Linked DNA regions of Homo sapiens: region 1 is linked to region 2. Evidence: fine-mapped expression QTL. A gene starts in region 2. The other region holds a variant in brackets. All regions are shown on one strand. Distances are between the middles of the regions.

Region 1 (5,394 bases), 300 kb before region 2:
AATTAAACCAGAACCTAATGGTTTTAGGTCCCCCCTCACTCTTAGTGTCTTGTGTTTCTATAGCTATTTCATTACCAGGAAGAATGTTGCAGGAGCCCATTGATATATTTATTTTTTAACATTTCGAAACTAGGAGTCTATATTAGTGACATTAAAATTTATTCAGAAATCTTAATGCTTTTTTTTAAGAGTATAAATTTGGGTGTAAGTATCTCTGCCCTCTTTTTTCTAGCCATTCTAAACGAAATCAAGCCATTCTGCTGTATGCCATGGATCTAATACAACCTGTTGCCGAAAATAAGTAGGAGGGTGGAGATGGAGTTTTAAATGTTTTTGGTAGAACTATGGTTTTAAAAGGCCTATGATATTAACATTTCTGTTTTCCCTTATGATGCGACTTGGGTTTTTGAAATTGAGGACAAATTTTTAGAAGAGACTGTAAGCTAGAGTTTTTTCAGAATAGCTATGAGAAATAAATAATTATTAATTTTTTAAAACATTATCTCATACCACTTTAGATATAATTTAACCAATATATCATTTATGGCAGAAATGATCAAAGCAATTTAAAAACCAGTGTTTCCTTGAAGTAATTGTTTTCATTTTATTTCTTGAACCATTGAAAGCAATCTCTTTTCTGAACAGGTTCAGAAGTTTACCTAAGGAGAGAACTTATTTGCTGGGGAGACAGTGTTAAATTACGCTATGGGAATAAACCAGAGGACTGTCCTTATCTCTGGGCACACATGAAAAAATACACTGAAATAACTGCAACTTATTTCCAGGGAGTACGTCTTGATAACTGCCACTCAACACCTCTTCACGTAGCTGAGGTACAGAAAAACAATTTATCTACATTAAGAAAAGAAATTCAGTGTTCCTTCCTAGCTTTCCTTAAGTAAACTATGCAGGTAAATGTTTCCTTTTGCTAGTTGGACACAAGCATTGATTTGGTGGTAGTATTTATCACTATTGCATAATTAGCATAATTCTAACAATCTTTTGCAGTTGTTATGGAATACTGGGCTATAAAATATTTAACTAGCTAATTTTAAAATTTTAATTTAGGGAAGTTGATCACGTTTCTGATAATATGGAGTGCAATCATATTGGCTACTGTGAATACATAAAATGTTAATTTTTGTTATTTTTAGGTTGCTTTCAATATATTTTAGAAGTGACTGTGAAGGTGAATAGCTTATTACACATTATAGTGGTGTGTGCCTATAGTCCCAGCTACTCGGGCGGCTGAGGCAGGAGAATCACTTGAACCCAGGAGGTGGAGGTTGCAGTGAGCCGAGATCACACCACTGCACTCCAGCCTGGCGACAGAGTGAGACTCTGTCTAAAAAATAAATTAATTAATTAAATTAAATAAAAAATAAACATTAACATTATAGCATATTGAAGCCAGTCTAGCCTCATCGATTTAATTTTTATTATTTATAAAAATTATAAGTGTAAACATAAACATTGTCTATTTCTCTTTGAGCTCTTTACAATAACTTCTGAACAATGCCAATACTTATAGTATTAACTTCTATCTAATACAATCTTTGTAATTAAACTCATAATTTTCATCCTGCTTATAAGTTTTTTTTGTTATTTTTAGAAACCCTACAGTGGCACTGCTTATAAGATTTTTGATACCTTACTAGTGACCAGTGTCACTTAGGTGTTCTTTGGAAATGTGTGCTTACCTAAAAAATGTCTATTTCTATAATATTAAAGCAGTATTATAATATATATTTCAAGTCCTATGATGAAAAATTGATTTGATTTGGAGGGATTTAGTGAATATTAGTTAAGCTGGTAGAACATTGTTTAGTTCCAAAAAATGACGGCTTTATTTTATTGTGCTTTTAGCAATAGCAAAAAGAAATATGCTTCTAAGATTGTTACATGGCAGAAAAGAATGTTCAAACTTAATTTACTTAATTTTAAATTACAAAATCTAGGATTCTACTTGTTAGCTAATAGAGTTTCAAGTATTTTATTAATCTTTGTGCAAATGTTGTGTTTAACAGTTTGGAACCAATCTGATTTTTTATTATAAACCAGTGTTTATAATAAACAGCTAGATAGATAGCACCAGTGTTAAACGTAAATCACACAAGTGGAAATTGTAAGGTGTAAGAGTTTTTAAGAGTTATTTATCATCATCTGTAGGAGAAACTGGCTTCAGTCTGGTCAGACAAATCTAATCTTTCCAACAGCTAAGTAATTCACCAGCAGGGAATTTATGAATAATTATTTAGTCAACCACCTGGAAATTAAGTCTGATTAAAGTTTTAAAAATAAGCAAGCAGGCCCAGGCACGGTGGCTCACGCCTGTAATCCCAACACTTTTAGGCTCAGGCAGGCAGATCAGCTGAGGTTGGGAGTTTGCAACCAGCCTGACCAACATGGAGAAACCCCATCTCTACTAAAAATACAAAATTAGCTGGGTGTGGTGGTGCGTGCCTGTAATCCCAGCTACTCGGGAGGCTGAGGCTGGAGAATTTCTTGAACCTGGGAGGCGGAGGTTGTGGTGAGCTCACATCATGTCATTGCACTCCAGCCTGGGCAACAAGAGCGAAACTTGGTCTCAATAAATAAATAAATAAATAAATAAGCAAACAAAAAACAGGGAGAAAACCTAACAGAATTGTAGTGTTATGATTTACATTTAGTAATATGAAACTAACATTTTTCTTCTTCTTTTCCTCTCTCATGTCTCAATATCTTTGCAAAATCTAATCTTCCTTTTTAACCGTTTTCTTCTCTTGATAAATTCTCTTGTTTCTATGTGTTTTGGTATGTTTGATATCTTGCTGCATATTTTTCTATGTCAAATCATGCCTCCTTTTGTCTCTTTCCTTCCTCCTATCTTGCTTTTCTCTTTCTGTTACATTTATTTGTTACATTTGTCACTGTGCTTTTTACAGTACATGTTGGATGCTGCTAGGAATTTGCAACCCAATTTATATGTAGTAGCTGAACTGTTCACAGGAAGTGAAGATCTGGACAATGTCTTTGTTACTAGACTGGGCATTAGTTCCTTAATAAGAGGTAGGCTTGTTGGAGTGTATTTCCCTCTAAAACTTTAGCTTTTGTTTAAGTAGATTAAAGGATTTAATAGCTTCATATGCAATGCTTAATAATTTTTTAACACAGTTAATGTTCTTCTAAATACTTTGTATGACATATTCTAATATAACTCAGTCTATTTTTATCAGTATAAATTTCTACTTTGGGGTAAGATACCTCATTTCAAATTGAAAGACCAGTAGGATGAACTGAAGACTCACTAACAAAACCATTTTTTGTTGTTGAAAATATGCAAACCTGTTTTTCATCTTCTACTGGGAGATATGATGTAATGTTTAGATGTTTTATAATCAATTTTGTATAGCTTACATCCCAGTAAACAACATATGTTCC[C/T]TTTTCCTTACATGAGCCATTTCTCCAGTTAAGTTATGGGGAAAACTTTTTTGTCACTTAAACTAGTAGACATTTGTTTAAATCCTTAAAGCAGTTTTATTTTTTATAATATTGATGTGGTCTTTATTTTGAAAATCATTTATGAGAAGAAATCTAACCTCTTCCTGGACATAAATAATGAAGATTGTTAAAATATTCTGTAATGCTCTGCAGAGGCAATGAGTGCATATAATAGTCATGAAGAGGGCAGATTAGTTTACCGATATGGAGGAGAACCTGTTGGATCCTTTGTTCAGCCCTGTTTGAGGCCTTTAATGCCAGCTATTGCACATGCCCTGTTTATGGATATTACGCATGATAATGAGTGTCCTATTGTGGTAAGCACCTAATCTTTTTCATGTACTTATTTTGCTAAATGCTTTGATATTTAACTCTCTGACACTTGGTCACAATCATACCCATATACTTCAAAATAGTGTCTTAGATTTATAACTGATTTATAATACATAGTTTTCAGAATGTTTTACTTGTTTAAAAGCAAATTAATTTACCTTATGAATTTATTTATGTAATTATCCTTTTACTTCATTATGCTATAGAATAGCACTTTGCATTTGAAAGAAAGCAAACTTTTGCTTTGTTGTTGTTGTCTTCTAGCATAGATCAGCGTATGATGCTCTTCCAAGTACTACAATTGTTTCTATGGCATGTTGTGCTAGTGGAAGTACAAGAGGCTATGATGAATTAGTGCCTCATCAGGTTTGTTTATATGTTGTTTCTTAAAACCTACATGGCCAACAACTTTGGGCATTTTTATTAAAAAAAATTCATTGTAATTAAGATGTATCCATGCTAAATTTTACCTTTGTCCAGATTTCAGTGGTTTCTGAAGAACGGTTTTACACTAAGTGGAATCCTGAAGCATTGCCTTCAAACACAGGTGAAGTTAATTTCCAAAGCGGCATTATTGCAGCCAGGTGTGCTATCAGTAAACTTCATCAGGAGCTTGGAGCCAAGGGTTTTATTCAGGCAAGAAATAATTAAATTTGTTTCTTCAGGTTCAATTTCAGAGTAAGTCTTTCCAGTTTGAGAGCTAATCTAGTTGTTCTTTCTGCTTCTCAGGTGTATGTGGATCAAGTTGATGAAGACATAGTGGCAGTAACAAGACACTCACCTAGCATCCATCAGTCTGTTGTGGCTGTATCTAGAACTGCTTTCAGGAATCCCAAGACTTCATTTTACAGCAAGGAAGTGCCTCAAATGTGCATCCCTGGTAATGCAATCTAAAAATTGTTACTGTATTTGTATTATATTATTATATTAAATTATACTGTAATGTTATGGTTATATATCATGTATATATCATATATATTATAACACAGTGCTACTGTGGACGTACTTGAGAAAAAGAATTTAAACTTTTTGGTAACTTGGCCAGGTATGATGGCTCACACCAGTAATCCCAACACCTCAGGAGGCTGAGGCAGGCAGATCACTTGAGCTCAGGAGTTCAAGACCAGTCTCAGCATTATGGTAACACCCTGTCTCTATCAAAAAAAAAGTACAAAAAATTAGATGGGCATGGTGGCACATGCCTGTAGTCTTGGCTACTCCTGAAGCTGAGGTGGGAGGATCGCTTGAGCCCAGCAGGCAGTGGTTACACTGAGTCCAGATCCCACCACTGCACTCTACTGGGTGATAGAGTGAGACCCTATCTCAAAAAAAAAAAAAAAAAAAGAAAGAAATTTTTGGCAACTTATATTTTTACTGCATGGAACAAAACCTAGACAGAAATACTTTCAAATGTTAACATTTTTTGAGTTGTGAAATATTTTTGTTTATATTTTATTTCCTAATTTGTGTAAAATGAACATTTATTTCTCTTCTAGCAGAACAATATGTATATTTGTGTTAGTGTATATGTATATATGTGTATAAATGTCTTTGTGTGTATATATGCACAAACATACA
Region 2 (5,394 bases):
AGTGTAGTGGCACAATCATGGCTTATAGTAGCCTTGATCTCCTGGGCCCCCTCTGCCTCAGCCTTCAGAATAGCTGGGACTACAGCAAGAACCAGTGTGCCAGTTTTTTTTTTTTTTTTTTGGTAGTGACAGGATGTCTCCACATTCTCCAGGCTGGTCTTGAACTCCTGGGCTCAAGTGATCCTCCTGCATTGGCCTCCAGAAGTGCTAGGATCACAAACATGAGCTGCTGTGCCTGGCCAGTTATTTCTTTATAGCAATGCAAGAACAGCCTAACACAGATTGATAAAGTGGACTACATTACAATTAAGAACCTATTGAAAGACATCACTTAGAAAATAAAAGGAATACCATGTACATTAGTGGGGGAAGATATTGGCAATATATATAACCACCAATGGATTACATCTAGAATATATAACGAACTCCTTAAAATCAGCTGAAAAAGGCAACAGAAAATACAATTGAACAGGAAATTTTCAAAAAATAAAATCCAAATGGTAGAACTTTCCCTGTGGAGAAAAAAAAATCCAAATGACCAAAAACAAATGAAGTTGTGCTCCACCTTAATAAAAACATAATAAGATACCAATGAACATCTGTCAGAATGGCTAAAATTCAAAAGGCTGATTATACCAAGTGTTGGTGAGAATTTGAGTTACAGAAATCCTCATGGACTCCTGGTATATTGGTGAAATTGTAAATTAGTATTAACTATTTTGAAATACTTATGTACTAATATTGAAGATAAGCACAGCTTATGATCCAGCAATTCCATTCAAAGGTATGTACCTAGAGGAAGGGTGTGTCTCCACCAGGAAACATGAACAAGACTGTTCCCAGCAATGTTTTACATGATAGTAAAAAAATTAAAAATAAAGTAAAACAATGTTTTAAAAGCAATAGCTGGACATGGTGGCTCACGCCTGTAATCCCAGCAGTTTGGGAGGCTGGTGGATCGCTTGAGGTCAGGAGTTCAAGACCAGCCTGACCAACATGGTGAAACCCCGTCTCTACTAAAAAAACATAAAATTAGCCAGGCGTGGTGGCACATGCCTGTAATCCCAGCTACTTGGGAGGCTGAGGCAGGAGAATCACTTGAACCCGGGAGGCAGAGGTTGCAGTGAGCTGAGATTGCACCATTGCACTACAGACCAGACAACAAGAATGAAACTCTGTCTCAAAAACAAACAAAAAAAAGGAATGGCAGTATTCATCCATTGAATTATAAAAATAGCTAGAATTAAGGGGGAAAAAACTGTGTGACATTGGAGATATGGTGAAAAGATGAAATTTCTTCTCCCAATAAGCAAAAAGAAAGGCAGTCAGAAATTGTGTTGAGGAAGACACTGTACAAGAAAGCCACAGTCCATATATAGAGCCAACAAAATGTGGCATGATTTTTTAGCATTTATTGAAGTGCAGGAAAGGAGAATCTATTTTAACATTCTTCTTTAGTACAATGAATATGACATTGATACTGAGAAGGAAATGTTGGCTCTGCAGAAAACAGAAATTACATAGTAAAGTCTATGTATTGGTCTTAAACTTTTGAAATAAATCAATCTATAAAAAAGTAAGGAAGACTTATTGAGGGTTACAGAACAGAATATAAATGCCATATATCTTGAAAACATAAAAGTGACAGTACTTTTAACAGAATATGGAAGAAGGAAATAAGGAAAAGAAGTAAATGATAAGAACACCGATATCCACATCTTCGAAGTGGGGAATCAACAGATACTGTCTGTACCTTATGGAACAAGAAATAAAGATTAAAGTATTTGCTTAAAGTTATTAAGGTAATCAAGAGAGAAGCTAAAAATAGGGATATAACTCTATGGCAGTGTAAGGGAACTTAATCCCCACCTCTCATAATGAAGCTCCACAGATGTTTAAAGTTGATTAAAAATAGCATGCAATTGTCTTTGAAAAAGAAAAAAAAGAGAGAAATATGGAGATAACCACTGAAAACTAAATTCCAAAATGGTTAAAATGATTACTTCTAGGGAGCAGGACTGGTGATAGAGAGGAATCGGATAGATAATATTGCTTTTCATTATTAACCTCTTCTAAATTATTGATTTTTTAAACTAATATTATGCAGTATATATGTGTGTGAGACAGTCAAAGAAAGAGGAGAACTATATTACAGAAAAAAGTTTAAAATTTCAAGATTGATAAATAATTGGCATAGGCAGGAAATTGTTGAGAGAATCTCTAAGCAAGGCATGCCGAATTTACTCAGGAACAGAATGCGAGATCTCTTTGCTGTGAAGAAACCTTGGGATACATACACTGGTAATCCAACTTCCTGAGCATATTGCAACCAATTTACAATTTATTGTCTCTAATTTAAGAAAGTTTGAAGTTTTTGCTAAATACTCGAATAAAAATATTTTTGAATTCCCAAGTATCTACATGTATACATGTATTTTAGAAGACATGTAAAACAATTCATCCATTTGCTAATTCATTTCCTCATTTGCCATTAAATGTTGCTCATCCATCAGTTTTCCTATAACAACCAACTTCCCCTAGGGAAACACAAGTCAATAATGATATATTTCTTCCTCCAGCACAGGACTGCTCTCTACTCTGATTAGTACCATAATAGAAAAAAAGCACATAATGTGACAAGTGAGGTAAGCATAGAAAAGAATTGCAGAAGAATTGTTTCTTACTTCTGGGGAAATCTATCTTCCAGAGGAGCACAATTATATGAGTGACCATGAACACCCCGCAAAAAAACTTTTAAATTCTATTCCAGTTTGTTTGGACATTCCAACCAATACAGACACAGTATAGGTATCAGCAGCAATCTATTTACATGTGAAGAAGAAAGGAAAAATGTTTTTGAAAAATACTTACCATTGTCAAATACTTACCACACATAACCAAAGTTAGCGACTATCAGTTAAGAGTAGATTGCAGGGGGAAATTTTTTTTTCAGTGTGGCTCCAAATGATTAAAATCCCCAGTCAGCTGTAACCAAGTGAAATGTAATGTCAGCCTAGTTCTAATTTTAGTTCATGGACAAAGCTGAGAATAGAAAGAATCACATGAGGCTTCTTTGCGACGGATCAGCTGATAATGTATGTGAGTGCGTTCTGTGGACTGCAAAATACGCTACAGACATTATAAAACTATCAGGCATAACTATTTCTAAGATCTTGAAAAATAATGCCTATTCAAAGTCCTTCTACTTTTCACAGCTTAATCATTTCACAGAATTTCATGCATCTATTCCATCCAAGCAGAGAAACTTGGAATATGTTGATGTATGCCACAACAAAAATTCTACCCAGTAAACCATGGATCTGCAAATATTTGAACTAAAGACCCAGATGCTTTAGAAAAAGAAAAAATAAAGGTGTGGATAAGCATGAGTAACACAGAAGCCCCAAACTTCTGCTGTACCTGGGCTTCAAATTAAATTACCTCTCACTTTGATCTCTTCAGCTTTCATAGATAGGACTTAATTCCAGGTTCTTAAAAAATAAACTATATCTTTTTTTGAATTTATAATATATGCACATGGAACAGAATTCAAAAGCTCAATCTCCACTCTCTCCATCCCCCACCCCTTCCACCATCCCTGCCTCCAGTAGGGAGGTTCTCTTCAAGTTCTCTTCTCTGAAGGCAACCACTATTGCCAGTTCTTTGTGTACCTTTACAAAGATGGTCTATGAATTTACGAGCTTAAATATGCCTATATCCCTTAAAAGCACACATATGTGAAGGCATGCACACATACAAAAATGGTAGCATACTATATACATTGTTCTATACTGTCTTTTCTTCACTCAGGATATCTTGGAAACTGTTTCATATTAGTATATTTAGAGCAGCGTCATTCTTTTTAATGGCTACATAGCAGTTTAGCGTGTAGGTGGATCATAATTTATGTAGTCATTTGGACATCTCAGCAATATTAATGCTTTAAAAATTTATGCCTGATTATCTCACAGAAATTCTCCAACACTTCTATAATGAATTAAGTTCTAAGAGTTGTGGGACTGCTCAAGATCACAGAAAGAGTAAAGAAGCCATGGCCACAATTGAAACTCTAACTTCCCTGTCCCGAGAGTGTACACCACCCAACACATACAGAGTGCTTGCATGTGTTCATAAGTAAAAATCAAGATCTCACACCTGTAATCCCAGCACTTTGAGAGGCCAAGATGGTAGGATCACTTGAGCCCAGGAGCTGGAGACCAGCCTGAGCAACAGAGTGAGACCCTGTATCTACCAAAAAAAAAAAAAAAAAAAAAAAATTAAAGTAGCCAGGCATGGTGGCCCTGTCTCCATAAAAATAAAAATAAATAAAATAAAATAAAACTAGCCAGGTGTAGTGGTGTGTATATGTAGTCTCAGCTACTTGGGAGACTGAGGTGGGAGGATACCTTGAGCCAGGGAGGTCAAGCTGTGATGGTGCCACTGCACTCCAGCCTGGGCAACAGAGCCTTCCTTGTCTGAAGAAAAAAAAAAAAAAAGAGAGAGAGAGAGAGAGAGATCCAGGGAGTTTTGTTTCAGTTAAAAAGAACAGTATATTGTTACCTTGGAGAAAATTAAGATTTCTTTCTGCCTTTGGCACTACGTACAATTAAATTTTAATTTGACAGTATTTATAGAGAACCCACAAATTTCAAGGCATCTCTCTTCTCCTTCCCTTATCTACCTTTTATTTCCCATCCCCATGGAGTGACTTACACTAAAGAAATGCCCGGGAGGATAGGGAAAGTGAATAGATGCCTGAGCTATTTATGACACAAATTAGCCAGAATTTTGGTGACTTTGGAGGGATGTAGAAAGTGAATGCAAAGAGACAGGCACTATATAATGAATATCTATCTGTCATTTACGACTGTCCAAAATATTTTGAACACCATCCACATTTTTATAATCCCCCACATCATGAATCCTACCTTTCCAAGGTAGAATTTGAGGGGGAAAAGAAATCCCAGCCTCCCCTGCTACTGGAATGGGGTATGTGACTAATTTTATACACTACTAAGGTTCCACTAATTATATACACCAACAAAGGGCTCTGTTGGGTGACTTGTGTCGCTGGTGTCCATTTTTGCTGGCATGGGTAGCAGCAAAGGCAGTATGTTCTGGGGTTTGTTTTGGCAGCAAAAGTTGCCTAGCCTCAGCAGATGTAGCTGGTTCTGGGGTCAGCAGCAGCAACTCCCTTACTAGGCAAGTACTGTAATGTAATTCTGGAATTCTGACAAAGGCTACGACATGGATGATTCTTGAGGACATTATGCTAAGTAAGCCAGTTACAAAAGGACAAATAAAAAATTATGGAGATAGATGGTGGTGATGGTTGCACAATATTATGAATGTGTTTAATACCACTGAACTGTACACTTAAAAATGATCGGCCGG

Direction of the effects. Positions count from the first base shown, and alleles are read on the strand shown. Sizes are in standard deviations (SD) of each study's normalised expression.
In carriers of allele C in region 1, the expression in atrial appendage of the gene that starts at base 3,010 in region 2 tends to be lower than with T alone (small effect, 0.37 SD a copy in GTEx).

The links. PIP is the estimated chance that this variant, and not a neighbour inherited with it, causes the effect. A credible set is the group of variants that fine-mapping cannot tell apart.
Region 1: its variant is the best candidate, but not a certain one, in a credible set for the expression of LRRC39 in atrial appendage (GTEx, PIP 0.59).

Annotation. Positions count from the first base shown.
Region 1 is chr1:99,876,996-99,882,389 of GRCh38, forward strand. It overlaps AGL (amylo-alpha-1,6-glucosidase and 4-alpha-glucanotransferase), which reads left to right. Exons shown (of 34, transcript NM_000642.3): 12 at 646-833; 13 at 2,928-3,051; 14 at 3,637-3,800; 15 at 4,081-4,182; 16 at 4,297-4,452; 17 at 4,546-4,696. Among named protein-coding and RNA genes, the nearest start is that of AGL, 29 kb to the left of the region's middle. The variant C/T (reference allele first, on the strand shown) is at 3,424.
Region 2 is chr1:100,175,247-100,180,640 of GRCh38, forward strand. LRRC39 (leucine rich repeat containing 39) reads right to left here and starts at 3,010. Exons shown (of 10, transcript NM_144620.4): 1 at 2,889-3,010.